Linked DNA regions of Homo sapiens. The protein of the gene in region 2 purifies or fractionates together with the protein of the main gene of each other region. This does not show direct contact. Each region holds a gene or a part of one and is shown on either strand. Other genes may lie near its edges. The genes, in order: TALDO1, COX17, MSRB2, SQOR, HADH and TBCA.

Region 1 (4,970 bases), on a different chromosome or scaffold from region 2:
CATATGTAGGTACCCACACACAACACTCACTGTCAGCATCCGCTCCAGCTTCACTGCATCAGCGGCAAACTTGCGGATCCCGTCAGAGAGCTTCTCCACAGCCATCTGGTCCTCGTTGTGCAACCAACGGAAAGACTTCTCATCCAGGTGGATTTTTTCCAGGTCACTGGCTTGGGCTGGGGGACAAGAACCAGCCTTCCATGCCTGCTCCATGTCCCTGCCCACCTTGGCCCCTTGGGCTCAGGGCCTGAACTGCTGCACCCAAGCATCTCCCACCAGGGCCAGGCCTTGGCCCCAGCAAGGCTCACGCTGGAAGTGGGGTTCAGCCCACAGAGCCTTGGCTGATGACTTGAGTGAGATGTGTTAGGAAAGCCAAGCCCTCCGTTGAGGTCTACTTCACCCTCATGTCTCCCAAGATGAGCTCGCCCCACAGGTGGGAGGGATCACCCACAGGGCAGCGTGGCACGGCAGTGCTGGCCTTGCCCGAGCAGGAGCCACAGCTGGGCAGTGGGGCCTCACCCGCCTTGGCTGAGAGCACAGGCACCAGCTTGGCGTTGTCCTGCAGCAGCTCTCCCAGGAGCTTGGGTGAGATGGTGAGGAAGTCACAGCCGGCCAGTGCTTTGATCTCGCCCGTGTTGCGGAAGGAGGCGCCCATGACAATGGTTTTGTAGCTAAACTTCTTGTAGTAGTTGTAGATTTTAGTGACACTCTTTACCCCTGGAAAGAGACCAAGCTGTGACCAGGAAGGCTTCGGCAGAGGTACCACCCCACCTGCCCTCCCAGTGCCTGCCGGCTGCACTACCTTGAGCCGCCACCCCTGCCTGCCCCGCGCCGACCTGTGCACCTCACTGCTTGTTGATGCGGCAGCTCCGTCTCGGGCTCTTCCTGCCTGAGGTGCTGCTGAGGCTGCTCCCCTTACCCCATTACCACAGAGGGACCCTCACCAGGGTCTTCCAGGGGCTCATAGGATTTCTTGTCGGTGTTTGCCACATGCCAATCAAGGATGCGCCCAACAAATGGGGAGATGAGGGTCACACCCGCCTCGGCACAGGCCACAGCCTGGGCGAAGGAGAAGAGTAACGTCATGTTGCAGTGGATGCCGTGCTGCTCCTCGAGCTCCCTGCGGGGCGGGGACAGGTGAGGGCGGGGCAGGTGAGGGCGGGGACAGGTGAGGGCGGGGGCGGGTGAGGGCGGGGACGGTGAGGGCGGGGATGGGTGAGGGCGGGGGCGGGTGAGGGCGGGGGCAGGTGAGGGCGGGGCAGGTGAGGGCGGGGCAGGTGAATGCAGGCCAGGTGCCCACCCAGAGCCACAGGCTGCCAAAGACGCTCACGGGCCTTAAACTAAAAAGGCAGGAACAGGCTCATGCCATTGTTAAGAACAAATCGGTAAGACTCGAGGGCTCTAAGTGGATAGTGGGTTATGGGTGACCAGGATTTTCTCCAACCCACATGACACAATAGACAAAGGCAAGGGAGGCCCTCTGGGTGCCCGTGCTCTTGCGCCAGGCCGTCACCTCATCCCAGAACTCACCAGGGCTCAGCTCCCAGGCTAGAACCACTGAGTCATCTCTGACCACATTCCAGTCCTCACCCTGTTCCACCCTACCCATTCCTGGGGCCACCCTGCAGCAGGCCCGTAGCACCCTGGTTTCTGCTGAGAGGAGCCCCTTGGCCTCACTAGGCCACTTGCCCAAATCCCAGTGCACTTTGGACATCCTGGGGTTGATCCCCAAGGACGGAGCAGTGCCCATACTTTGCCATGTGGCTGGGGCATGGGATGAGACAGCCAAGGCTCTGCTCAGGCACCTTCAGACACAAGTTCCCTCCCCAGGCGCCTCTGCCACATGGCCACACGGGGGTGTTCGAGGGGGACAGCAGATGGCACAGCTGAGTTGGGAAACAGCCTGCAGTTCCTCCAGCAGTCACCCAGAGACTCCACTCCTAGGCATATGCCCACGAGAAACAAAAACACATGTCCAGGACAAAACTTGCACATCTGTGTTCAGAGCAGCAGATGTGTTCATAGCAGCAGATGTGTTCAGAGCAGCAGCATACATCACAGCCCGAGAAATGGAAACCGACCACAGCAATATACATCACAGCTCAAGAGATGGAAACTGACCAGGTGTCCACCAACAGATGAATAACTGTGGCCTATCCATAAAATGGAGTATTTTCCAACATATAAAAACAAATGGTCCGGCCAGGTGCAGTGGCTCAAACCTGTGATCCCAACACTTTGGGAGGCCGAGGCGGGCGGATCACCTGAGGCTGGGAGTTTGAGATCAGCCTGACTAACATGAGAAACCCCATCTCTACTAAAAATATAAAATTAGGCGGGAGTGGTGGCGCCTGCCTGTAATCCCAGCTACTCCGGAGGCTGAGGCAGGAGAATCTCTTGAACCCCAGAGGTGGAGGTTGCAGTGAGCTGAGATAGCACCATTGCACTCCAGCATGGACGAGAATGAAACTCCGTCTCAAAAACAAAAAAAAACAAAAAAACACACAAATGAGGCCAGGCACAATGGCTCATGCCTATAATCCCAGCACTTTGGGAGGCCAAGATGGGTAGAGATCTCTTGAGCCCAGGGGTTCGAGACCAGCCTGGGGAACGTGGTGAAATTACCCAGGAGTGGTATGTGTGCTTGTCATCCCAGCCACTTGGGGGACTGAGGTGGAAAGATAGCTTGAGCCTGGAGTCAAGGCTGCAGTGAGCCAAGTTCGTGCCACTGCACTCCAGCCGTGGTGAAAAAGTGAGATGCTATCTCAGAGCAGGTCAGTGATGGCAGGTGGTAGAACATGCAGACACACAGATGTGGAAACAAAACACCTCTTCCTGATGCGAATTATTTGAGTATAGCATTGGCTGCTTCTGGGTGAGAACATCATAGAGGAGTTTTACTTTGTTTTATACATTTTCTGTCTCTTCCACTCTGAACGTACATATGTTTGGTTTGGTTTTTCTGAGACAGGGTCTCACTCTGTCACCCAGGCTGGAGTGCAGTGGTACGATCATAGCTACTGGAACCTCAACTTCCCAGGCTCAAGCGATCCTCCCGCCTCAGCCTCCTAAGTAGCTGGAATCACAGGGGTGGGCTAGTTTTTCTTTTCTTTTTTTTTTTTTTTTTTGAGATGGAGTCTCATTCTGTCACCCAGGCTGGAGTACAATGGTGCAATCTCGGCTCACTGCAACGTCCACCTCCCAGGTTGAAGTGATTCTCCTGCTTCAGCCTCCCATGTAGCTAGGATTACAGGCACCTGCCACCACGCCCAGCTAAATTTTTTGTAGTTTTGGTAGAGACGGGGTTCCACTATCTTGGCCAGCCTGGTCTCGAACTCCTGACCTCAGGTGATCTACCCACCTCAGGCTTCCAGAGTGCTAGGATTACAGGTATGAGCCACCGTGCCCGGCCTAAAAGTTTTCTTTTCTTTTTGAGACAGAGTCTTGCTCTGTCACCCAGACTGGAGTGCAGTGGTGTGATCTCAGCTAACTGCAACCTTCGCCTCCTGGGTTCAAGCAATTCTCCTGCCTCAGCCTCCTAAATGGGACTACAGGTGTGTGCCACCATGCCCGGCTAATTTTTTATATTTTTTAGTGGAGTCGGGGTTTCACCGTGTTAGCCAGGATGGTCTCGATCTCCTGACCTCGTGATCCCCACGCCTCGGCCTCCCAAAGTGCTGGGAGCCACCGTGCCCAGCCTAAAATTTCTTTATATTTTTGTAGAGACAAGGTTTCACTTTGTTGCCCAGGCTGGTCTGGAACTCCTGGGCTCAAGTGATCCTCCCATCTCAGCCTCCCAAATTGCTGGGATTACAGGCATGAGCCATCTTGCCCAGCCAGCATATATTTTATATAACAATAGTTTACTTTTTAAAAATCATGTAAACATAGGCTTGTGTTGATCAGGACAGAGGAAGGACAGAATCTGAATCTGCAGGTGCTAACTAGTGGCTTTTCTTCTCTGCTGAGTGGGTGGATGGTACTTCCTGGGAAATCCCTCATTTCTGATCACCAGCAAGTGAGGGAGCTGGCTCTGGAGCAGAGGGCAGATCTAGGCTGACATGAGCTGGTCAAGTCCAAGCTGTGGGCTGTGCTCCCCAGTCTGGCATTCCCCAGGGCTGAGAGAGTCAAACTTGCCTGATGCCATGTAGACCCTGCTCCAACAGAGGAAAAATCTCTGAGAGCTCCTTCCTTGTGGGGGACCACTTACTTTCCAGCCTGAATTCCTTCCCAGGTTGATGACAGCTTTATAAGAATTCGGTCCTTGCTGATCCCAGCTTCCTTGTAGAGCTCGATGAGCCGCCTGGCTCTGGCCACCATCGCATCTTTATCAAAGGAGAGCCTGTAGGAGCAAGAAGAACCCATCCCCTCAGATCACGCAGGTTGCCCACCACGCAGAGCAAGCTGGAGGCCGGGTGTCTGCCTGTCAGTTTTGAGCAGCACCACCGTGAGCACCAACCACTGCCCTCAACCTTCCCCTCACTGGAGGTTTGCAGAATGGCTCTGACAGCAACTCACACCCAGTCTCACAAACAGAGGTCCTCAGTGGGATCCATAGGCTATAATTTGTATTAAAAAACACTGGGCCAGGTGCCGTGGCTCACGCCTGTAATCCCAACACTTTGGGAGGCTGAGGCGGGAAGATCACAAGGTCAAGGGATCGAGACCATCCTGGCCAACATGGTGAAACCCTGTCGCTACTAAAAATACAAAAAAATTAGCTGGGTATGGTGGCGGGTGTCTGTAGTCCCAGCTACTTGGGAGGCTGAGGCAGGAGAATCGCTTGAACCCGGGAGGTGAAGGTTGCAGTGAGCTGAGATCACACCACTGCACTCTACACTGGCAACAGAGCGAGACTCTGTCTCAAAAAACAAACAAAACAAATCAAAACAAAAAACACTAGCAGCCGGGCACAGTGGCTCATGCCTGTGATCCCAGCACTTTGGGAGGCCGAGGCAGGTGGATCATGA
Region 2 (5,587 bases):
TAAAATACCTTAGGGGCAAAACATGATAATGTTATAACCTCATTAAAAATATGTAGCATAGAAAAAAAATTTTATTTTGTTTTAAAAAATGTATAAAGGCATAGGAAAAGTCTAGACTAGTATATATCAGAAATTAACAATGGGTGATAAGGTTATCGATTTTTTTGTTTTCTTTTTTGCAGTTCCAGGACATATTCAAGCAGAGTTTGGATAACCACCTGCCAAAGATCTGTATTGGGTGGGAAGTTGGTTCATACCTGTCTTAATTGTCCAAGATTCTATTCTTCACCTAGATTATCTCTGTAAATCATGAAGTGCTTACTAAAAGTATTATATCCAAATGAATATTCAAGTAAAAATATAAACAATAAAATAATAGAGAATGCTAATAACAGTGCTAAATACTGTGTATACATCATTTTTAATTAGTACTGACAATCTCGTAAGTTAGGTATTACTTCTATACCTTTTTTTTTTTTTCAGCTGAGAAAAACAGACCCAAAGAAGCTATGCCTTGCTTGAGGTCACATAGCCAGCTATTGAACCTAAGTCTGTCATACATCAAAGCCATGCTCTTAATGAATTAGGAAAGAATCTTAAGGAATCATCTGATTCAGCTCCTTATTTTATAAAGGAGGGACTTTTCCCATCACACAATGATACATGAACATTATACATCCTCTTAATTATGTTCTCAGTATCTTTTGTTCTTGAGATTTTAGACTCAATGTACTTACAAGCAGAATATGATCATACTTCATTAGCCCATCAGCAGCTACGAGGATGACAAGGTTGCTATACTAAGGAAATCACACTCTGTTCAACTCCAGGCATCACCATGGCATAGCACTGAGCTGTTTGATTAGTGACATTTAATACCAATTCAGTCTCTAGCCTAATTAATTTCTAATTAATTCTAATTTCTAATTAGTTTCTAATTAATAAGAGACAACTGTCTACCCTGTAGGCACGAAACTTAAGATCCTAGTCTATTTTAAAATGTAACTACCCATGTACAGATTCATAATGCCAAACAGTTGAGATCTTCTAAGCCAAATTACCCTAATCTGGTCCAAAATCTAAACTAACTTTTCCAAAAGACAGCTAGTAAAGAATAACAATAATGGTTTAAATAATAAGACTAAAGGCTTGTTCTTACCTTTAAGAAAGTTAAAAAAAAAAAAAAAAAGAGTGTTGAATGAGATGATATGGCTACCACACTGATTCTGAATTGGTAAAGGGTTATTTTACTTCTATGCACCTAATTCTGGAGATTTCATTGGTTGAGGTCAGTATCTGCTTTCTCCTGACAACAGATATCCAGAGTTCCCAGAATGACATAGTAATAAGAACATAAGAACCTTATGTTACAAGATTTGTTGGTATATATCCTTTGGGGGAAAAAGCCACGTGAGCAAATGAGGAACACAAAAAAGAAACACAACTGAAGATCTTCCACTAGTAATATTTTACTTTCTTCTTACAATAAATTATAAATACTTTTTCCACATATCAAAGTTCGTCAAAGAACTCCCAAAATTAATCTTCTTCATTCTTCAGGAATTATTTATTCACACAGCAGACCACCTACAGAAAAATATTTATTTTAGAAAGTCAGATTTCAAACATCATGCCAGATCTATGGAGTCAGGGAATTAAGACCACTAGAAATGAATGCCTCAGATGAGTAATTAACTAATTGCCAGAATTATTCCAAATCAGTCATAAAATTCAAAATCAACATTTTAAAATTCTAGGTTTGCCTAACTAAAAACATTAGTGAAATTATTCATGATATTATTTACTCTTTAAAAGTTTTTGAAGTAAAAACTCTCTCTGCGTGTATATATATATAATACATATGTGTGTGTTTGAGAAATACATATTTCTCAAAAATATCCTCCAAAAAAGGCTAAAGCAGTTATTTTTACAGATATTCAAGAAACAAGACCTGCAAACCCCTCTTTGCTGATTCAAGTATGCCTGGCGAAGATCCACAAAGTAGAAGGCAGAAGGTCAGCTCAGTACCCAAGGCACTTCCTGTGGAAAGTTACTCACTTAATCCCAAAGGCAAGACAAGGGCAACCCTTTAATATTCATTTGGAAAAATCAAAAAGGGAGAGTAGCATAGATAGGGTTGCTGATCCAGTCAAGTCAATACCAGGCTTCTCACACCTCTCCCAGTGCCTATCCCAGAAGATTGAGAACAATGCTAGGAAGGTAATTAAATTGGGGTAGCTAACTCTTCAAGTCTAATGCAAATATTTCCTTCATTTAGCTGTTCACTTCATTTGGTTTAAATAAAGATAAACCACATCAAGATACAAACATCTAAACTCTTTTCTAAAAGACTCAAAGGAAGAATACATTTATAGAAAAGTTTGGAAAGATAACCAAAAACGAAGCCATTCAACCTTTCAATTATAGCAGCCCATAGCATTGTTACGACTTTTGCGACTGACTACATAACAAAAGGGGCTGTGTGGTGGAAGACCCTGGATTTAAACCTGTTTGATTATATCTCTGGATGTAAAGTCTTTGACTGGAGGGATAATCTTTCTCTCCTCAGTATTTTCCAGGGTCTTAATAAATATCTGCTGAATGAACAAATGTTTGAATGGCAGAAATTATTCTTTCTGGATTATCTTGGGATATTTTCATACATGATCAGTTTTGTGTGTGTGTGTGTGTGTGTGTGTGTGTGTGTGTACAATTCAGCATATTTTAAGCATCCAACTGTTAAGTTGTTAAACTTAATATTGAGTATCACCACTATTCAGTACTAGTCCTTTAATTTCTTTCAACGACTTTAGTCTCCAAAATAGGTTCTTTAGGCTTCTTCTGTCTCCTAAAGGCAGGAAGATAGTAGCCATCTATTTCCTCATATTTCTAATGAGGTTCTAGGTTCTTCTAATTACTCTTTTCAGTAAAAGCAGCAGTCATAAAATAGAAAAAAATTGTCTAAAATCACCACCATACCTATTTTTTCTTGAGTTTTCAAGTCTCTGCCTTTGCTACTACTAAATTTTCAGATACTTTATGCCTAGCATTATCCCTGCTATTCATCTTCAACTTAGGCCAGTGGTTGTTAAAGAGGAGTGCACTTGAAAATCATCTAGGAGTTTCTCAGTCAACAGGTGCAGACCAGGGCCCAAGTTGTGAATTCTGGAAAACATTCTTCAGATGATTCTGAGGTGCACCTCTGGGTAAGAACCACTGGGTGAATGTAGCCTACTTTCAGGTAAGGTATAAAAAATGTATAATAGATTTATTCCCAATCTACTGCACTTGAGGTACAATTAAGATCTACTTAGGAATAACATTAAAATCTACAAAGGTTTTTGAATTAAGGAACTTTCATGATCGTTGCCAGAGAGATCTAAGTTTGCAAAATATTTTTCCTTTGAAGCTATTCTCAGAAAAATGTGATCTAACAGTCTAAGAAATACCGATTTAGGTTAAGTTTATCTTATAGCAATGCAGACAGTTGTGTTGGATTTCACCCTCCAGCCAATGGCCTGTTTACTGGGTTATATGCAACTGTACATTTCCGCAACAAGTCTTTCTAATTAGCATTCATAATGAGGTTTTAAGATTGAAGATCAAGATTATGTGCAATCCTAAAAATGAATATGTTGGAATAAAATCTCATTAAGTACAAGGCGTGAAGTGTAAAGTGCCTGTGATTTAGAGAATATAAAAATCTTAACTCTAATCTAATTCTACCACTATCCACTCCTAACTTGAGCAAGTCTTTTTTGACTTCACTGTGCTTCCATTTCCCCATGGAGGTTGGGGAAATAGGACACCTGGGACCAATAAGGATCCAACACCCAGTCCTCTTCCCAAAATATTATTACACTGAAAATGAAAAACATGGCAGTTTGAATTCTCAGAAGGGTCCTATATGGATTCAGATTGTTCTTCTTGTAACCAGGATTCAATAATAATCAAGTCATATACTTAACAGACCTCAACTGAATGTCTGCTATCCACAACTCTAAAGGTATGAGCTATTCTGTTCTGGTTTTTACAGATGATTTATTTTACATTGAATCATCACAACTCTATGAAGTAGTTTGGGCATGTATTATTGTCTCCATTTTACGGATGAGGAAACCAAGGTACAGAAAGTTAAGGACCTGCCCAAGACCACACAATCAGTTAAGCAGTAGATTTTCTAAGTCTAAAGCTTTTGCATTTTCTTTTACACACAAATGAAGTACACAAACATAATTCTCACTCTCTGCCCTGATAACATAAAGAAAACTATGATATCATATGATACTTTTGAATATATGCCACTTATAACAATTGTACCACCTTTGTGGTTCAGATGAAGTCCAAGATAAGCTTTTGATATTCCTAAAATTAGCATTTCTTTTTATTTAATCACCCCTTTTTATCAAGGCAAGTTCAGCACAAGCCTACAGCTTACACAACTGACGAGGGAGTTAGATCATGAACAAGGAAACCATGTACAAATGTTAAGGTTGCATCTTTAAAAATAGTTAATAAAGTACACATACTTTTTAAGAACACACTCCCCTTCAAATTTACTTATTTTATAAAATAGTTCATTATGGGATTTCTTTAAATAACCATCTATTCTAAAAGCAACTTAAGTATATCATTTACACAACAGTAGATATACCATACTATATATAGAATCACAAAATGTATTATGGTTCTCTTTTTATAAATAATAAGTGAAATTCAGAGGAGTAATGTCTTGATGAAGCTAAATGTAGCTAAACTTAAAAACATGATAAACTAAACATCAGGAGAATAAAAACAAAGCCTCAGGACTTTCAGCCTAGACTGTTTTCCATTACACAGTAACTTCTTATCAGCTTGCGACAAGTTCCTTATCCCTCCTTTTTTATAGCTCAGTGAGGAAGACTGGCCATATGTGAAATTCCAAAGAGGCAGGAAAGAGGTGCAAGGGAAAGAAGCCAGGCTCTCTAGTACTAATATATTGGCATATGGCTTTGGCATTCTCTCTCAGCTGTTATTAAGTTAAAAGTGGTAGTGTGGTGTGGAAGTTAGGGTAGGGGCAAAAAGCAGAGGGAATCGGCATGGAGACTGAGGCTCCAGTTCTGATACTGCACAACCCACCTTGGGGGCCATTTCATAACTATAAGCTTTAATTTCCTTATTTATTCATTCATTTAACAATCCTCCATTAAGCACCTACTATGAGCCAGGCACTGTTATAGGTAGTGGGGATATGACAGTAAATGAAATAGAAAATTCCTACTTTCTCAGAGCTTACATTCTAGCTGCCGTGAAGCAACACAGGTAATTAAAAATATATGTATCATGCAGGTGACAGTGTATAGAATAGAGTAGCCACTAGCCACATGTAGCTATTAAAATTTTTACAAACTAAAAATTCAGTACCTCACTCTCACCAGCCACAATTCAAGTGCTCAACAGCCACATATGGCTAGTGGCTACCAGACTGGCAAGTGCAGATACAGAGCATTTCCATCTTCACAGAAAGGTCTTAGGACAGCACCATGATAGAGTGATGGGGAAGGGATGTAATTTACATGGGGTGTTGAGGGAAAGCCTCTCTAATAAG
Region 3 (4,970 bases), on a different chromosome or scaffold from region 2:
ATTTTTTCTGTACCTCTGCTTCCTACTATAGAGACTGGAGACCAGAGACAGAAAGAGAAGGAAAATGAGAGGCAAAACCAGAATATATTTCTAAAACTCCTCTTGAACAGGAAGAAGTCTCAGGAATATAGTCTGCATTTGTATGTTCTCATTAATTAGAATATATCCTCCAGAATTCCTCAGGATCAAAAGCGCATTCATGTATACAGCCCTAAGAGGGATCTATTGCTTAAGAACACATCATTACGCCCGGGTGCGCTGGCTCACGCCTGTAATCCCAGCACTTTGGGAGGCCAAAGCGGGTGGATCACCTGAGGTCAGGAGATCAAGACCATCCTGGCTAACATGGTGAAACCCCGTCTCTACTAATAATACAAAAAATTAGCCAGGCATGGTGGCACACGCCTGTAATCCCAGCTACTCAGGAGGCAGGAGAATCGCTTCAACCTGGAAGGCAGAGGTTGCAGTGAGCCGAGATCGCGCCACTGCACTCCAGCCTGGGCGACAGAGCGAGACTCCATCTCAAAAAACAAAACAAAACAACAAAAACATCATTACTAACTTGCATCAAGTGCCTGGCCTGAGTCAGTCATGTCAGGCATTGCTCTATGCTTTTCCATGTATTAATTCATGACTCAGATTATCCTCCCAACAACCTTATGAATTAGGTACTATTATCTTCATTTTACAGGTGAGGAAATCAGACACAGAAAGGTTAAGAAATTTGCTCAAGGTCACACAGCAATGGAGCCAGGATATACACCTTGGCAATCTTAACCATTCTACTGCCTCTCCCATAAATGAGTGCATCTTTAAGAATAGTATATTCTGGAACATAAATAATCTTCAGGAATATATTATTTCCTTCAGCTGCAGTAGCAGCAACAGGAAAGGGGAAGAGAAACAAACTCAGAAGTCTTTAAGAATGCAAAATGGAAACTTTTCAGCTCAAACTAAATGGTTACACAAAAACAAATAAAGTTAGTGAATTGGCAGTCTCATAAACTGGCCACTTGGTCAATGGGCTTTTGGAGAATCGGCTGGTTTTCCTATTAGTCTTGGCTGCTTCACAACCTCCAGGACCTGGAGTTGGTCACTTAACTTCCTTAATTTGAACTAGCATTGTGCTAATATAGTAGCCTCTGGCCACATGTGGCCTTTTAAGTTTAAATTAATTAAAATTACATTTAAGTTTAAATTAATTAAAATTAAAGTTTAAATTAATTAAAATTAAATTTAAGTTTAAATTAATTAAAATTAAATTTAAGTTTAAATTAATTAAAATTAAATTTAAGTTTAAATTAATTAAAATTAAATTTAAGTTTAAATTAATTAAAATTAAATTGAAAAAGTCAGCTTCTCAGCCATGCTAGCCACACCTTGAGTGCTTAACAAGCTTATGTGATGAGCAGCTACCACATGGCCAGATACAGACATCTCCATCACCACAGGAAGTTCTACTGGACAGAGCTTTCTGCTCTGGACTCAGGACCCTCCTGGCTCCAGTATTCTGACACCACAACTAAGCCTGCAAGGTGAAAGGAAGGGAAGAAGTCCCCCCCTTTTTCAGATGCAGAAACCGGAACATCAAGGAAGGGGAAGAGTGAAGACTGTGATTTAAGAGAATGCTCTTGCGAGGATGATTTATCTTCTGTATTCACAGTGCAAAGAGGGAGACAGAGCACTGCCTGGTGCCTGCGGTAACAAGGGAGCCCTTGACACGCTGGCAGCATGGTTCTATGGCTGAAAGCTCATGGGCCATCTCAAAATCCTACCTCTCCTCTTTAACACAACCAAAGGTCAAGAAATAACTATTGTCTCAGAAACCTGAGTCCCACATTTTACTGTGCAAAAATTAACCTCCTTCTAGTTTCCCCCATGCCAACGTGAATGCATCCGGGCAAAGGCCTGCCCATCTGTGAGCACGGAGGAAAATCGATGCTAATCGCTCCTCATCCTTGCAGGCGGGTCCGGCTTCCTAAGGCAGCCCACATTAGCAGCCAGCCGGGCAGGAAGGCCCAGACTGCTCAAAGCCCAGAGGACAGAAGGAAGCACTGCCTAATGGGCAATGCACAGAGCTGGCTTGATTTATATTTTATTCTAAACCAATTTAGGGTTGATGCAAAAGAAAGGAAAACATCTTTGAAGTTCTGAAAAATAGGACTTCAAAGATGTTTTCCTTTCTTCTCCATCGAATCTACTTTTTTTTAAGACTGTTTCCTGCATGTCTAAACAAAAAAGCCTTTGTTGAGAGATTTCAGATCCTGATTGACTTAAAAGAGGCTTTGAAATCAAGGGACAAATAAGTTTACTTTTAGCTATATAGAAGAGGGTATGGTATTCGCTACTGTCAAGCATTGTGGGGAATCTATCCTCATAAAATTCTACATTTCCTAAATTAAATTATAAACCCATTTTCCCTGGGAGAGAGTTTTAATCACATGGCCCAGCAAATATAATCACGGTTTAGATTTCTTTAAATACTTTCCCTCTAAAAAAAAAAAAACTCTAATAGCTTTATCATAAGGGGCCCACTGAGTTTTATTTCCTTGCTATTTCTTGAGGATAGAGAAAGGAAGAATATAAGCTAAGAAGTCTTGTTAATGGCTCTAAATGCTAGAAAAAAAAGTCAAGACAGGCAAGTATCTTATATGAATAGCTCTCCTTACAGCAACAATGCAAAATGAGAAGAGCAATTTAAAAAACAAAATGGGTATTATGGGTATTTATTTATCCAAGATCTCAAATGAAACAAAGCAGTAAGAACCTGGAGGTTTGGTCTCCTTCCGTGGCTCTCAATTCTTTATCTTACCTGAAGAGTGGACTGTCGCAGCACACGCAATGATACATTCCTGCTTCCTTGTTATTCAGGTAGATCCCACTGAAAGGCTGAAAGTAAATTAGATATGTCATGTTCAGATTTCTCATACTACTGGCAGGAGTTGAAACAGCAGATTTAAATCCTGGGTAAGTCCCCAAATCAAGGAATTTCTGTACTAATTTGACGAAGTGCAAATAACGCCAGAGAGAAAATTATAATGTACCCAATGAAGCAGCCTGCAGATGTATTTACAGCCTGGGCTTTATTGCACCCAATATTCAAATTATGACTTTGATAATCTTTGTATTCATACAGGACTTTTCATCCAAGAGCATCAAAGTCGGTGAAAAAGCAAGAAAACAGAGTCTTGTCCTCTGTGACTGTGTGAGATTTCGGTCTCCCTTTTAAAAGAGTTAATACAACAGGAATCTAGTCCACTGTCTAACATACTTTGAAATCTCCAATTAAAGACAGAATATAAATACATAAAAAGCATAGTTCAGTGAGATCAGGCATTTTGCCTTTAATATGCTTCACATAATGTTTAGGACACAGCATACTTAATAAATGTTAAATAATGAGCTAGATTCCCCACCCCCTCAGTGCCCAGGTTACTACTTAGATGAAATTACTGCGTTCATTGTGGGTTACAGGGTTTGCAAGTTTTCAGAGGTATTCTGAGAGGAGAACAAGGAGACAAGTCAATGAATTAGCCAAGTCAATATTTTTTAAAATGTTATTTCTCAAACTTGATTTTTTTTTTTTTTTTGAGATGAAGTCTCACTGTCACCCAGGCTGGAGTGCAATGACACGATCTCAGCTCACTGCAACCTCTGCCTCCCAGGTTCAAGTGATTCTCCTGTCTCAGCCTCCCGAATAGCTGGGACTACAGGTGCACGCCACCACGCCTGGCTAATTTTTGTACTTTTACGGGGTTTCACCGTGTTAGCCAGGCTGGTCTCGAACTCCTGACCTCAAGTGATCTGCATGTCTTGGCCTCTCAAAATGCTGGGACTACAGGCATGAGCCACTGCACCCGGCTGATGACTTTTTTTTAAAGACCATTTTTGCCCAATTTCTTTTGTCATCTCCCCTGTCAAAGAAAATTAAATAAAAAACAACCCTTGCACAAGCTGACCATGAAGATCCGCTATCACAGGGCCTGGCGGCAGGCACTGTCCCCTCCTATGGGCCAGAGGAAAGCCAGAGCACAGAACAGCTCACCAAGTGACAAAGCTGACTCAGGAAATCTTCAGATCCCTCCAGGCTTCCCAACTCAAAAAATTCACAGTTTAAACATCCAAATTCCCTGTGGTAGTATTAACAGCACATTTGCAGTGAGCTGTATAAAAGACAATTTCAAATTAACCTACTGAGCCTACCATCTGGGTACACTTGGATGTTTTCCTTCTTTAAAACCCTAAACTTAGCTGCAGAAATCCAAACAGTAGTGAGCTGGTCCTTTATGGCCGGTCCCCTCAAATGCCTGCTTCCAACACTGGCACTAGTTAGCAGCTGTGAAGAAGAGGAAGTTGGCCAGGTGTGGTGGCTCATGCCTGTAATCCCAGCACTTTGGGGGGCCGAGACAGGTGGATTACCTGAAGTCAGGAGTTCAAGACCAGCCTGGCCAACATGATGAAACCCCATCTCTACTAAAAATGCAAAAAAATGCCAGGCATGGTGGAGCACGCCTGTAATCCCAGCTATTCAGGAGGCTGAGGCAGAAGAATTGCTTGAACCTGGGAGGCAGAGGTTGCAGTGAGCCGAGATTGTGCCACTGCACTCCAGCCTGGGCGACAGAGCCAGACTCCATCTCAAAAAAAAAAAAAAAAAAGAGGAAGTTTCCCATCCTTCCCACCTGGGCTGAAGATGAATGCATGCAAAACAGGACTGCCAGTCCTAAGGCTGATCTAGAAAAGCCTTTTCATAGGATCCAGACAGCCTGGAAAGACTCAAAACATAATTTCATTATTGCAGGGGGGCAGCTGGACAGAGGAAGTGATAGATAACTGCTATCACAGTAAGCAAAATAAAAATTAAAACATCAGTGAAGGCCAGGTGCGGTGGCTCATGCCTGTAATCCCAGCACTTTGGGAGGCCAAGGCGGGTGGATCACCTGAGGTCAGGAATTCAAGACCAGCCTGGCCAA
Region 4 (4,970 bases), on a different chromosome or scaffold from region 2:
GAAAATGTATCAGAAATACAAACATAGCAATGCTTGCTAGTTACAAGCTGGCTGCCTCCTGGAACATGGGAAAACTCCCTGCACCCACAGCCAATAAAGGGTCAAAACAAGATTTAACTGGAGGAGGTGAAAGGAATGAGGGAGGCAACCAAAGCAAACATCATCATTTCCCTATTACATGAAGGACATTCCTGGAAACTGGCTCACAAGATTATAGAAGCTAAGTCCCAATTCTGTAGTCAGCAGGCTGAAGACCCGGGAGAGCCTATGGTACAGTTTCAGTCTCAAGGCCAGCTCAAGACACAGGACAAGCCATGTTTCAGTTGACTCTCAACACAGAAGAACATCCGATATCCCAGCTCCAAGACACTCAGGCAGGCAGGGCTGATTGTCTCTCATTCACGGGAGTGTTCGCCTTTTTGTTCTACTGAGGCTTTCAGCTGATTGCGTAAGGCCAACCCACATTGGGGAAGACAATCTGTTTTGCTCAATCTACCCATTCAAATGTTACTCTCATCCAGAAACCCCCTCACAGGCACACCCAGAATACCGTTTGACCAAATTTCTAGGCACCCCATAGTCCAGTCAAACTGGAACATAAAATTAACCATCACACCCTCTGACTTAAACTCTAAGAAGGCGGGTCTAAATCTGGAAATACCTTAAAAAGGAAATTGTTACTGTCACCTGATTAGCATGACTTTGGTTGCCAAGAAAATGCCAAACATTAGCCCATAAATGAGATCCTTAGCATAATCTCCTCTTAATCCAAAATACATGCAAGTAACGTGTCCAGTAATATTTACAGCACATATCAATGGCACTGCATTAGATACTTCATGAAACCAGGAAGGCAACTGACTGTTTCCCCTTCCTGTCAATATTCTGAATCCTGCTGTATTAATTCTGTTTTTCATTGTCTGTATTTTTTTATGGTTTGACATTTTGGGGTCTTGCTAATCCCAGAGACTGCCCCTCCCAGGACTAGCTAACTCTGAGAGATGGTAAATGGCTTGCCTGGCTTGCCTATGACCACACCTTTGATATGTAAACCAATCAATCCAGAGCCATATTCTGAACCACCTCCTCTATTTGGCTTTAACCCTGCAAGAGGCAATTTTCCCCTGCCCTTATTATTCCAGGGCCAGGCATCAGACAACTACAACTATAGGCAGCTCATGAATCCTGGAGCACTCTAAAATTATTCAAACTAGCCAATCCCAAACCTAGCCAGCCCTTTCCCCTGCCTCACAATACAGTCTTTTGCCTGTTCTTTCCCCTCACTTTTTCTGCCCCTTCACCTACGCAGGTGCTTTCCCATATGGCCCCATGTGAGGTGTTATGCCTCCTGTTTCTAGGGAACTGTGAGTAAGAGCTTCTTCCTTCATGGCAGTCACCTCCTGATCTGTTGGCCTCACCATACTTGATTAAAACAAATCCCAGGTACGTTGTAATACATCTAGATTAAAATGCATGTGCCAACTATTCAGTCAGATGGAAGCTTTTACATGTTTAACACATTTTTGCTCGGCTTCTTCTCCTCACATATCCACTAAACTGTCAGGCGGCATCTTAAAAGCCAGGCGCGGTGGCTCATGCCTGTAATCCCAGCACTTTAGAAGGCCGAGGCAGGTGGATCACTTGAGGTCAGGAGTTTAAGACCAGCCTGGCCAACATGGTGAAACCCTGTCTCTGAAAAATACAAAAATTAGCCAGGCATGATGGCGGGTGCCTGTAATCCCAGCTACTCAGGAGGCTGAGGCAGGAGAAACGCTTGAACCTGGGAGGCAGAGGTTGCAGTGAGCCGAGATCGCGTCACTGCACTCCAGCCTGGGCACAACAGAGCAAGACTCCGTCTCAAAAAGGAGAAAAAAAAAATACGCCGTCTCTATGCCGTCTCTAAAATGCAATTTAATTACATAGTACCGAAGAATGTTACAATTTGTGGGTGATTGAGCTAAATTTTTATAAATTTTTGCAACTAAATAACATAGCTACAGTTTGAGTTTTTAAGGCAGTAACCGCTCTAGAAGAAGCAGCACGTGGCCTTCCTTTCCTTTGTCATATACTATCCTCCATTCTATTGAAACTTAAGATATCTTCTCCACCAAGAAAAATCTTCACATCTATTTTATCCATTTAACCTTGATAAAGGAGGGCATCAGCCAGAAGTGCTCAGAAAAGAAGGTGAGAAACAAGTTTTCTGCAGCATATAAGTCTATGTGCAAATTCAGGTTTATACCTACACTGAATTTGTCTCAATCACACAGGGGCTAAGTTTGCAGAACTGAAAATCAGGAAAGATAATCTAAGCTGAATTTTTATTAGGAGAATTTTTACCTGCGCAAATGATATACGATTAAATTACTTACATTTAGCTATGCTAAATATGTAAGTGTATCTTTGTGAAATAGACTTACATGAAATTCGCATGGTCACAATTCTGCTGCTGTTTAAGAATGTTTCCAGGCCAGGCATGGTGGCTCACGCCTGTAATCCCAACACTTTGGGAGGCTGAGGCAGGCGGATCATGAGGTCAGGAGATTGAGACCATCCTGGCTAACACAGTGAAACCCTATCTGTATTAAAAATACAAAAAATTAGCTGGGCGTGGTGGCACGCACCTGTAGTCCCAGCTACTTGGGAGACTGAAGCAGAAGAATTGCTTGAACCTGGGAGGCGGAGGCTGCAGTGAGCCGAGATCGCACCACTACACTCCAGCCTGGGTGACAGAGCAAGACTCCATCTCAAAAAGAAAAAAGAATGTGTCCACAAGTATTCATTGAGCGCCCACTGTATGTAAGGATGCAAGCTGAGAGACAGCAATTTCTCCAGGCCTGACCCCCTCCCACTCTTTTAGCTAGGGCATTGAGGCTTTACATGGGAAAACAAAGTTCTGGAAAGTGATCGCACAAAGGGGCAGCTTTGAGTAAGAGAATCTTCTGGTGTTGGAACAAATTAACCCTCCTGTTGGAGGAGAAACAAAACCAGTTTCACATGGGCTAATTTTGACAAATCAGTTAGGAGACTATTGGAGTGGTCCAGGTGTGAGCGATAAGCTCCTGAATTAGGTGTTAGCATTAGAAATGCAAACAAAGATTCAGATAAGATAGAGGCTGGGAAGAGAGAATAATTTCGGAAGACGTGGGAAAGGCTTCTGGAAGAAAAAAAAAAGTCAAAGTTGACATCTAGACAGCTGAAGAAAAAGGAATTATGTGAGCAGAAAAAGGGAAGTTATGTCAGGGACCTGTTCGGGCTACTTTTGGACAGTTGGGTTCAAGATTTTGAAAGGAGAATCACTTGCAATGAGAATCTCCTAACGGTGGATATAAAGGAGGGCAGTCTAGCGCTCTGGGAAGAGGGAGAAATGAGATTGGATAGGCATGTGTTACTAAAGTTTAGGTCTGAGAGCTTATTCCCAGACAATGGCAATTTGATCTAGGAGTCACAAAGCAGCAACCTGCAGGCCAAGTGCAGGCCAGAGCTGTGTTTTGCTTGGCTCACAGTGCTTTTCTTGAATTTTGAATTAGTCATCAACATTAAAAAATTTGGAGATCTCGACAAAAAATATTCCAGATTCTTGGCCTCTAACACTAAGCCCACATTCTCACATGGAAACTCTTGGCTGGAGCTGAGCAGTCATTGGTCTTCTCCACCATGCACAAGGTTTCAGTTCACTCCAGCCCCACTCAGCCTATGTTGTTCATTTGTTACCTGCTCAGCCCTGGTGTGCATTTCAGCCTGTGGTTACTGCTAATGGCAGTGAGAGCCCTTGGAAGGTCTTAATAAAACTGGATTTATAAAGAGTCCCCAGGGGAAGCTGAGAGGATGAACTGGAGCAATTCAGTTGAGTTCAGCATTTTTGATTGTTTACTAAATGCCAGGGATTGTGCTAGGCACTGCACAGCCAGTGATGGGTAAGAAGAGTCTGTCTGTTATAACAGGAAAGACCAGGAATATGAAGATCCATTAAGCGGCTGTTTCAGAAATTCAGGCACAGTGAGGGTGGGGTCTGAATGGGAACAGAGATGAGGGGTGTGAATGTGAGACACACATTGACATTTTTGCGACAATCAGCTATAGGGGATAAAGAAGAAGGAAGAATGTGAACGATGACATTATATCCACTTGTTCAGGTGAATATAATGAAGACAGGATGTGAGCAGCAATACTAGAATTACTCAAAGTGGAGTAAAGGTCCAAGGCACTGTGAGGGAGAAGGAAAGCACCCCCCTTGAAAACTGAATGAGTGTTGTTCCGAGAAAGGATAGCAGCTGTGCTCTTCCTCTTGGCACACCTCTGCTTGAGTAATGGCAGTGCTATTCTTGCCTTGTGTGTTCAGGAACTGGATTACTATACTGTTAACAAATAAAGAAAATGGAGCAATCTTCACTTAGCCCTGCAGGGCCATGTTGAAACTCTCCCTCTGGAGCTGTTATAAATCCAAACATTTGTTTAAATATTAAGCTGTGAAGCAAGTACACCAGTAGTGGGCCAGGACTGAGTCACTGGGGAAATAGGAACAATCTATATAGCTCTCTGATGATTCAAGGACTGGGAGCTGCACTGGGGTTCTTTAGTTCCCTCACTCTTCAGGGGCAAAACTGTAGGAATTTTCTTTGCAGAGTTACTGATTAAGAGTTGCTAATGAGGACTTTACAATGAAACAGTGGCTCCCTTTGCTCCTGAGAAATTTCCTACAAATTATCCTGACCTATCCTTATTTTACAATCAGAGAATGCATTGTAACAAGAGAACTGACAATTTCACCAAACCAATACAATTGCTAAGCAGAAAACACAAATTATATTTACATAAGGAAAATGCTTGCATTCAGATTCCAGGAAAGAAAAAATATGTCAGTCAATTGGATTATTTCAAATGAAAGTTAAGAGTTTTGACTGAATTATATAGGGGGAAAAAAAATGAAAGAACACCTTGTTTTTCTGCTTGCTGTAGCCAGTGGGAGC
Region 5 (4,970 bases), on a different chromosome or scaffold from region 2:
AGTCTCCTGAATAGCTGGGACTGCAGGCATGTGTCACCATGCTCAGCTAATTTTTGTATTTTTAGTAGAGACAGGGTTTAACTTTGTTGGCCAGGCTAGTCTCGAACTCCTGACTTCAAGTGATCTGCTCGCCTCAGCCTCCCAAAGTGATGGGATTACAGGCGTAAGCCACCATGCCTGGACTGGTTTTTTTCTTCAAACAGTTAAATTAATTGGACAGACTCCTTTATTAGACTTCGAATTTTACATTTCAAAAAGTATTTCTAAAAGGCAAAGAAAGTGTGCGCCCATTTTTAGACTAGAATTGTGTTACATAGTTTTTTTTTAATTCAGTAAGTGTGTAGGTTTCATAATAACCCAGATAACCTCTCCCAGACTTCTCACCTCCCACAAATTCTGAAAAGGTAAAGGGATAACCAGACATGTCAACAGCATCGTTATATTTAAGAATCCCTGGAAGATGTTGCTATGATGGACACTTTCCGGGTAGAGGAGAGTTATAAATCCAAATGCCTCTCCAGGAAGACTAATATGACAATGTTTGCCATGATGAGTGGGTTTTTTCTTTTAGTTTTTGCTGAAAGGACCAATTAAGAGGCTCCCATGACAATTCAGGTTAACACACCTGGTCTAGGAACTGCAAAGGAGAGGGCAGAGGAAAGAGCTCTCCCATGACCAAAAAGTTACAGAGCCTTTTCTGGTATGGAGACACTGATTGTGATCCCATCTTCAGAGTACATGTGGCTGGAAGAACAACTGCAGCAACAGGAGGGGCAAGCTCTCTGGAAAAAGCTGGAGGGGAAATAATGAATTAGATCTTGGCAGGTGAGTTTGAGTCTACCATGGGCAGAAGGATGGCAGCACAGCACCCTGATGTAGACGACCAGCAGGTAGACTAACTTTGAGTCCAGAGCCAAGGAGACGTCAACCTGGGATGTACTGATTCCAGAGAGCCACAGAGGATCCCCTGCCATGGATGCCACACTTCTCCCCACAATACAGCACTTGCCAGAGGTGCAGGCAGAACTGAATTCAGGCTTGGGGATTTACAGGCAGCAGAACAGAAGAGAACTCAAGTTCTAACCCCAGCTCTGCCTCTGACCATTGACCCCAGGAACCATCTCTGCAGGGGTGATTATTGTAATGGTCACATGAAATTAAATAAATCAAAATTCTTTGAACAGAATAAAGTGTCATATTTTGTAGAGTGGTTTTAGCTCTACAAAAACCAGTAAATGGTACACTATCTTTCTCAACAACCCACATAAATAAGTCTTAACATCTTTAGAATTGCTGGAACTCCCTATATCAAAACTCTTCCGACAGTGAAGACAATCTAAGAGAAATCCTCACTAGATCAGGTCTGATGGGTCTATGTGAAAGCAGCTAATATTTATCAGACAGTTACTATCAAACACACTAATGCTATTCTAGGAGCTTGTATATTAGTTCATTTAACTTTCACAGCTGTCAGGTGAGTCTCATTATTCCCAGGTAAGTAAAGAGGCAGAGAGGAGTTAAGTGATTTGCCCAAGGTTCCTAAAGGCAGGATAGGAAGGCTAGCATCTAAACCCTGGCAGGGACCTCATAGCCTGTACTTTTGAGATTAGAATACCACTACCAGAAATAATAACATCATGAATATAACAGGGGGAGCCACAGAGAACATCCACATTATCTTCCTGTGGTCCCAGGAGAACTAGAGAGTGAGGTGTGTGTGCCTACCACAGATAAGAGAGAAGGGAGAGGGGAAGAAAGAAGAAACTCAAGCAAGGGGCAAGTGATTAAAGCTGGAGGCAGAACATGGCAGGAAAATGCCAAAACCTGACTGACTGAAGTGCCATTTCTGCTCTAAAAAATGTCCAAACATATCCCATAGCATTATTTTCTGTTGCCTGTGAGCCCTACCTCTTCTACCCTCTAGGAATGACAGTATCTCCAACCTCACCCAGAGTCCAATAACTAATATGCTAATAGAGGGTGGTTCTACATCCCAGTACCTCAACCAAGAGCAGAGAACAGCCCAACAAAGATAAGCAACAACTCGGGAAGTAGGGGGAAAACTTCATAACAAACAGACACATCTCATGTCCTTCAGCAGGAAGGTAACAACTGGGAGTACAAATATTCCCTCCATAAGGAACAGTCAAAAGGAGAGCTTACAGCCAGGTAACTGCTGGTCTCCTGTGATCCTGAAACTTCTCCTAGGCATCTGTACTGCTTTGCAAGCAAAGCAGTACTGTACTGTACAGCTCAACAGAGCTGTACTCACAGTAGAAGAGAATAAAGCTAAAAAAATATGAAACAACTCTGATCATTCTCTTTTTCAGCATCAGAAAATGCAGATTTGGGGGCAAGAAGAAGAGATGAGAGAACAAATCCAGTGGCTGGGGAGAAGCTTTCAGGTCTACCTGAATCCTTATCAAGCATGGTAGAGTCACACAAAATCCCTGCAACGTAGCAGGCTCTCCCTGCCCTTACTTTGTTTTTAATAGCCAAAGAAGCTCTCTCTAGAAAAAATATGCACTTTCTGCTTTTTAAAAAGGAGGAAAAAAAAAAAGCAAGCTTTGGGAGAGAAGAACCTATCCCCAACCCCCTTTAAGATGCAAACTTTCTCACTTCCTCAAAGAAGAGTAGTGCACTAAAAAGAAGGTTGCACCCGGAGAGCATGTAAAGTGTCTCAAGGGGGACATCTGAAGTGCCCCGTTCCCAGGGAGCCCACTGGCTCCTCACAAGTAATCTAATGAAAGCTATGCATTCTCTCTGGGCTCCTCATATGAAAAAACCCAATGTATGAAGCAAAGCCTAGAAAGGATTCAATACTGGAGAAATGCACACAGCTACCAGCTTTCTTCCTTTCTTGTTTTCCTCTTTATAAAGCAAAAAAACAACCTGTCCCCCACTCAAGGCTCATTTAATCCTATAAGCTTCTTTATTGGCCTAAGTATCCAGTGAAGATAAATTAGCAATCAAAACCAAGTCAGAAGTGTGTAATAAGCAAACACATGAAACAAGTTAACTTCAAATATTAACCTGCAGTCTAAGGGATTTTTTGTTTTTTTAATTTAAAACAAACAAAAGAAATGACAGGCAAAGTAGATACTCTCGGAAAATACACATGTACAAATGGCCTGTGCTCTGATCAAATGTAATTAAGCACTGAACTTGTCTTAAATTGCTTAATTGCTTGAGAAATGCATCAGGCTCCCACAAAATCTATTTAAATATTTTTTCATCCTTCTGAGCACAAACTGACGTGTTTAAAATGACAAAACTATTAAAATTATAAGCAGAACTGCACCTTGACTAACATTAAAACCACGTCAGAAAGTTCAAGAAAATTAAGCTAATGAAAATCAGTAACATAACCTCAATACTAGTTTGTGATTGTACTTTTATGGCTTTACTAAAGTTTAACAATAAAATGGGGGGTAACTAAAAAGTGTTCTCCCTCCTTTCAGAGGTCCCTGAAAAAACATACCCGCTGCAGCATCAGCGGGTATATGCATTCAAGATTAAGCAAGATGAAACAGGGAATCATGACCAATATTCTCCATCTAAACCTTACAGGCCTACCTCAGCAGCTGTGATCAGGATGGGAGTGGATATGAGGGGAAAAGGGCAAAAGGACAGGACAACTGCAATGAAGATGATGATTATTCTTTTTATTTATCTTTTTGAGACGGAGTCTCGCTCTGTTGCCCAGGCTACAGTGCAGTGGTGCGATCTCGGCTCACTGCAACCTCCACCTCTCAGGTTCAAGAGACTATTCTGCCACAGCCTTCCAAGTAGGTGGGACCACAGGCACATGCCACCATGCTGGCTAATTTTTTTGTATTTTTAGTAGAGACAGGGTTTCACCATATTGGCCAGGCTGGTCTTGAACTCCTGACCTCAGATGATCTGCCCCCCTCAGCCTCCCAAAGTGCTGGGATTACAGGCTTGAGCCACCATGCCGGGCCGAAGATAATTATTATAAAGGCAGCTAACTTTCTGTGAACTCTTATTACATGCCAGACACTGTGTAAGTGCTTGACATATGCTTGATATATGTAACTGCTTGACATATGCATGAATTCATTGAATTTATTCAATTCTCTCCCTACGAGGCCAGTACTAGCATTAGTCTACTTTAGAGATGAGAAAACCGAGACACAGAGGTAAAGTCCCATGTTAATACTGCATGAGGCAGAGCTAGCATGCAGACCATCCAACTTCTTATATTGAACTGTAGCCCATCTGTACTCAAAACACATCAACTAATTCGTCTCTGGCACTCAATAAGCAAAACAGATTTACCCTATGCCAAAAGCTGTTGGTCAAGGAGCATAAAGAATGAAGCAATACTGCCTAGAACTGCATGCTACAGGGTAGGGTGCAAAAGCAGATAAGCTAAACCACTGCAAAGCATTGCTCACAAATGTTTTAGAGGATTGGAGCTGTCAACTAAAGTAACTGAGGTTTTTCCAAACTGTGTTACATAAGGATGGAACTGTTTCTTATGGTCGTCCACTTTATAGATTTCTGGTCTTTATAACCTTTCAGAATGACAGTTCCATTATGTGTCCAGCCTATGGCATAAATAGCTTTTTTTTCCCTTAAGTTTCAAAAGGCACTCCCTGGTCCACCTATTTAAGAGTTTGATTGACAAGCACAAGCCTGTGTTCTCCATTAATGTCAATCATTTCTCCTTACTCCTTTGTCAGGTGAAAGCTCCAACACCATACCTGTAATTTTAGGTATTGCCCCTCTGCCTTTTAATGCAACACAACATCCATTTTTGGCCAATGATGGATGCAGCATTCAAAGAACTAAGCACTCTGATTTTCTACAAAAGTTGAAGTGACGCTTTCTACTTAGTTTCTAATCTTTTTCCACTGCTGTCTTCAAGGACACCAGCCACAAGTTTCTGGATCCATTTCCCATAATGTTCCTGGAGGCTGCTTAAGGCCCTAATATTTTGTTACTAA
Region 6 (4,970 bases), on a different chromosome or scaffold from region 2:
GGCTAAAAAGAAGTGGCAAGAGGGAGCTTTGCGATGGAACAGTTCTCCATCTTGATTGGTTGCTGCACATGCTACTGCAGAGAACTATACATGCAAACACACAAATGAGTGCAGGTATAACTAGTGAAATATGAGTAAGCTCTGTGGTGTGCTAAGGCAAACTTCATGGTTTGAATACTGTATTATATTTATACAAGATACTAACATTGGGGAAGGAAGGATGAAGGATGTAACGACACCTCTTTGAATATCTTTTGGAATTTCCTGTGAAATCTATAACAAGAAATTTAAAAAGCAAGTGTATTACCTTCTATAAGCCTGCATATAGGTACCAAGAGACAAACACATTTTCTTGGATGATTGTAAGTTATTTTCCATATTTTTACTACTGATTAAAAGAAAATCTGGGTTTTTCTTTGAGGATCAGCCTTGTGAGACACTCCTGGTCAAAGGGGGATCTTCTTTGTTGACTGAAGCCTCCTAATATTTTCCATATATTTAATGAAAAACATTTCCCCTTTATTTTTAGGAAAAACATAGAAACATGTCATTGTAAATGTTCACTCTTGTTTCAAAGAGTAAAAAAAAGCATATACATCTTTTTCAAAAAGATGAATTTTACATTACTGTAACTATATGCAATAATTGCAAAGCTTTTGTGAAAACTCTTTTGTGAGAAAACTGAGAACTCTTTGTCCAAAAATTATACCAGTTTGTCTTATTACTTCTGGAACCTAAGAGATAAGTTGTGCCTCAGGAGAAATGACAGAGATATGTCTGACTGAGTGTCATTACTGCCAATCATTATGCCCCAGGATAGGTTGAAAAACAAACCAGAAAGCTTTACCAAGTGAGGGCAAAACCCTCTGTACCCAACCCTAATTGGTGGAGAAGAAGAGAGATATCAGAAGCAGAAGGCTAAAATCAATTTGGGCAATATTTGAATGACGTGTTATATTGTTTAGCCAGAAAATAAAAAAAGACAGAATAAATCTTTAATTGACTGATATTCTAGCCTCCTGAAAACTTTTACCTAGTTGCTTATTTTTAAATTTTCTATTTTATTTTATGTATTTTTTGAGACAAGGCCTCACTCTGTCACCCAGGCTGGAGTACAGTGGCATGATCACGGCTCACTGCAGCCTTGACCTCCTGAGCTCAGGTGATCCTCTTACCTCAGCCTCCCAGGTGGCTGGGACTTTTGGGTGCACACCACCACACCCAGCTAATTTTTTGTATCCTAATAAAATTTTTTTATTTTTTGTAGAGACAGAGTTTCACCTTTGATATGGTTTTACTCTGTGTCCCCACACAATCTCATCTTGAATTGTAATCCATACATGTTAGGGAGGGACCTGGTGGGAGGTGATTGGATTATAGGGGCGGTTTCCTATATGCTCTGATAGTGAGTGAGTTCTCATGAGATCAGAGGGTTTCAAAGTGCGGCACTTCCCACTTGTTCTCCTTCTCTCTCTCTCTCCTGCCGCCTTGTGAAGAAGGTGCTTGCTTCCCCTTCACATTCTGCCATGATTATAAGTTCCCTGAGGTCTCCCCAGCCATGTGGAACTGTGAGTCAAGTAAACCTTTTTTCTTTATAAGTTACCCAGTCTCAGGTAGTTCTATATAGCAGTATGAAAATGGACTAATGCAAACAAGCTAGCCCCAGGCTAGTCTCAAATTCTGGGCTCAAGTGATCTACCCAGCTTGGCCTCCCAAAGGGCTAGGATTACAGACGTGAGCCACTGCACCTGGCCTAATTACTTATTTTAAAAGAACCAAAATTATAACTAGTCCAACAGAGGGACTGTCCCCTGATTTTTGGCAACCATCTTCAGGTAAGAGTTTGGTAGAGAATAAGAGATAGCACCTTAACTGTGTGCTTAAAATACAGCCAATTTAGAAGAAGTAGGAAAGCCAGAGCAAAACGGATCCAAGTGAGAGAAGAGCCAAAGTAGTGAGAAGTGACTGAGGATAGTGTTTAGCTCAGAAGAGGAAGAAATCTAGGGAGAAGTGTAGAAAACCCACAAAATGCAGCACTTGGCTGTCTTGATATTTTCTATGAAAGGCACAATAAATGTTAAGAAAACCATTGCTGAACTTAAAGTCCCAGGCAATCACAAACAGAGCAGTCCTTTTGGTTATGCAACACCCATTGTATATGATAAAAAAAAAGAATGGCCACAATATAGCTAAGCCAGGGAAAAGAAATTAAGAAATGTATGTAGGTTGGCTAAAGACAAGTTTTTAGGAAACTCTAAAACAAAACTGCAATTGACAACTATATACATGGTAGGTTGACAACAGAAGCAAACAGAAACAACTATTGTTCTGTAATCAGATATGAAATGTTATTTCTGAATAAGTACTAAGTTGGCTATGAATCTAACAAATCCTGTTAAAAAATATGATACCTATGACCAAAAAGAGAATTTTAACATGTCTGAGGGTAGAAACAACTTTTGAACAATTTTTTTTCCCCTTTTACATCTGTGTATGTAGTCAGTAATGTAACTAGTGTGTGGCTGGTATTTTCAAATGACAATTACAACACAGAATTCAGTAGTTAATCTTTACCTATAAAGTAGTGATTTCATTGAAAGATGATACATACATAACTATAAATGAAATAAAACAGGTTCTGTGATAACCCATAACTTTATTTGTAAAATTTTATTTAGAAAGGGAACACATTTATTCCTCTACTCCATGTAACTGATAACTCCTATTTTAGCTATAGGACTATTTTAAAATACATTATTGATGGTGAAAAAAAGCAGGGCAAAGAAAAAGACTAAATGAGGTCACTAGCTACATGACTGGGAAAACAAGCTGATGAAGTCCAAGAAGGACCTGGATGAAATAAAGTTATATACTGTGTCATAATATTTTCCCACTAGATGTAGGAAAACAATAGAAGACTTAAGAGTGAAAGAGGTACAAAAGCAGTATATATCATAATTTTAAGAATAAAAAGTTACATTCCATATGTAAATCCTTATGAAGGGTCGTTAGTTCATAAAGGCGGACAAGGCCAGGTAGGGGGGACTCACGCTTATCATCCCAGGACTCTGAGAGGCTGGGGTGGGAGGATCACTGGAGGCCAGGAGTTGAAGACCAGCCTAAACAAGAAAGTAAGACCCTGTCTCTATAAAAAATTTAAAAATTGGCCAGGCATGGTGGCACACATCTGTAGTCCCAGCTACTCTGGAGGCTGAGGTGGGAGGATCACTTGAACCCAGGAGTTTGAGGCAGTAACAGTGAGCTAGGATCACACCACCGTACTCCAGCTTGGGCATCACAGAGAGATCCCACTGCCCAATATAATTTATTAATATTAAAAAATAAAGGGGACATACTATATCTACACATCTGTTTGCTAATCCTCCCTCAATTTATGAGTATCTGACACACAAATGTCTTTTATACACACAGTGCTGTATCACAAATAAAGGAAGATGGCCTCTCCTAAAAGCTTAATAAAATAAGAAAGCTATCTTCCTAGATAGCCAAGGGAAGACACAGCCAACAGGTTGTTTCAGCTGCTGCTGCATTTCTTTTGCACGGTAGAAAGCAACTCCCTACAAAAAATTCTATTTTAAATGATTGATTAATTTTGCTGAATAAAGCCTGAGTTAAGTGTGATTACCAATTATGCCACGATTTACATGGCAAAAATGACTGTGAGTTCATAAAGCTGATTTTAAAAATAAATTTTAAGATATAGTCTGTACAAGCTGGTTCACATTCTCCTTTTTTTAAACTGTCATCTGGAAATTATTTTAAATGCATCTAACACTAGATTTTAAGTAGAAGACCAAGTGATCTGAGGTACATTTTATAGAGATTTATTTAGTTGTTGTGGTGGGGAAGGAATGGAGGATGTCCCATTCCTGGTGAAAGAAGTATGCCAACAGGGAGGCTTTTGCAATAAATAGTACTAGCAAGAGATGATAGTGGACTAGACTAGAACAATGGCAATAGAGAGAAAAATAGAGAGAGTAAGAAATAGGAGGTGCTGGCTGGGTGCGGTGGCTCACCCCTGTAATCCCAGCACTTTGGGAGGCTAAGGTAGGCAGATCGCCTGAGGTCAGGAGTTCAACAGCCTGGCCAACATGACAAAACCCCGTCTCTACTAAAAATACAAAATTAGCTGCGCGTGGTGGTGCATGCCTGTTAATCCCAGCTTCTTGGGAGGCTGAGGCAGGAAAATCAGCTGAGCCAGGAGGCAAAGGTTGCAGTGAGCCAAGATTGCACCACTGCACTCCAGCCTGGGTGACACAGCAAGACTCCATCTTAAAAAAAAAAAAAAAAAAGAAAGAAAGAAAAGAAAAAAAGAAATAGGAGATGATGCTGATATTAGATGTGGTTATGAGAAAGAGATAAAAATATCAAGAAGGGACCAACTAAATTTTTGACCTGAGTATCTGGATGAGTGGAGGTACCATTCACTGAGATGAGGAAAAAGAAAGAAGAAATTGTTTTTTGTTTGGGAGAGTAGGTTGGAGTAGTGTGAAATCAAGATTTTAATTTTGAACACCTCAGAGGATATGTCAAGTTTCAAGGTGAAAGTGGTAACTTGTGTCAGATGCTATTGAGGTATTTAAGATGAGGGAAAAAAGAGTAATAACAATGTCACTGATAGTTATAACAAGGGCTAGGGCACATAGTCCACTCTTACAGGAAGGAAAGTGGTACAGGTACAGATGCAGATAGGTTGACAGATTTTGTCGTAAGAATATGAGAAAGTTCCCTAACGGCCTCTATTTTCTCAAGGAATTATGAAGCAAGTGTCAGCTGAGAATGAATGTTCAATATATGCTATCATGGGAATAAAGAAAGTGTTATGGGAGCAAAAAGGAGGGGCACCTAACTCAGTTTGAGGTGAGAGTAGAAGAGACCTCAAGGAAGAACAGAAATTAATAAGGAGAGGGTAGGTAAGGCCAGGAGTAAGAGCATCCCAGACATGCAAA

Evidence for each region.
Region 1: the proteins of COX17 (region 2) and TALDO1 fractionate together in Homo sapiens (co-fractionation; one large-scale study listed by BioGRID). This does not show direct contact.
Region 3: the proteins of COX17 (region 2) and MSRB2 fractionate together in Homo sapiens (co-fractionation; one large-scale study listed by BioGRID). This does not show direct contact.
Region 4: the proteins of COX17 (region 2) and SQOR fractionate together in Homo sapiens (co-fractionation; one large-scale study listed by BioGRID). This does not show direct contact.
Region 5: the proteins of COX17 (region 2) and HADH fractionate together in Homo sapiens (co-fractionation; one large-scale study listed by BioGRID). This does not show direct contact.
Region 6: the proteins of COX17 (region 2) and TBCA fractionate together in Homo sapiens (co-fractionation; one large-scale study listed by BioGRID). This does not show direct contact.

What each region holds. Positions count from the first base shown.
Region 1 is NC_000011.10:759,494-764,463, reverse strand, and holds part of TALDO1 (transaldolase), read right to left. Parts: intron 4,343-4,970; coding exon 4,211-4,342; intron 1,121-4,210; coding exon 945-1,120; intron 718-944; coding exon 520-717; intron 177-519; coding exon 31-176; intron 1-30. UniProt on the Homo sapiens protein: Catalyzes the rate-limiting step of the non-oxidative phase in the pentose phosphate pathway. Catalyzes the reversible conversion of sedheptulose-7-phosphate and D-glyceraldehyde 3-phosphate into erythrose-4-phosphate and beta-D-fructose 6-phosphate.
Region 2 is NC_000003.12:119,668,079-119,673,665, forward strand, and holds the end of COX17 (cytochrome c oxidase copper chaperone), read right to left. Parts: intron 1,588-5,587; 3' UTR 1,454-1,587; downstream 1-1,453.
Region 3 is NC_000010.11:23,108,161-23,113,130, reverse strand, and holds part of MSRB2 (methionine-R-sulfoxide reductase B2, mitochondrial precursor), read right to left. Parts: intron 2,890-4,970; coding exon 2,813-2,889; intron 1-2,812. UniProt on the Homo sapiens protein: Methionine-sulfoxide reductase that specifically reduces methionine (R)-sulfoxide back to methionine.
Region 4 is NC_000015.10:45,640,993-45,645,962, reverse strand, and holds part of SQOR (sulfide:quinone oxidoreductase, mitochondrial), read right to left. Parts: intron 1-4,970. UniProt on the Homo sapiens protein: Catalyzes the oxidation of hydrogen sulfide with the help of a quinone, such as ubiquinone-10, giving rise to thiosulfate and ultimately to sulfane (molecular sulfur) atoms.
Region 5 is NC_000004.12:107,991,825-107,996,794, reverse strand, and holds part of HADH (hydroxyacyl-coenzyme A dehydrogenase, mitochondrial isoform 2 precursor), read right to left. Parts: intron 1-4,970. UniProt on the Homo sapiens protein: Mitochondrial fatty acid beta-oxidation enzyme that catalyzes the third step of the beta-oxidation cycle for medium and short-chain 3-hydroxy fatty acyl-CoAs (C4 to C10).
Region 6 is NC_000005.10:77,702,516-77,707,485, forward strand, and holds part of TBCA (tubulin-specific chaperone A), read right to left. Parts: intron 1-4,970. UniProt on the Homo sapiens protein: Tubulin-folding protein; involved in the early step of the tubulin folding pathway.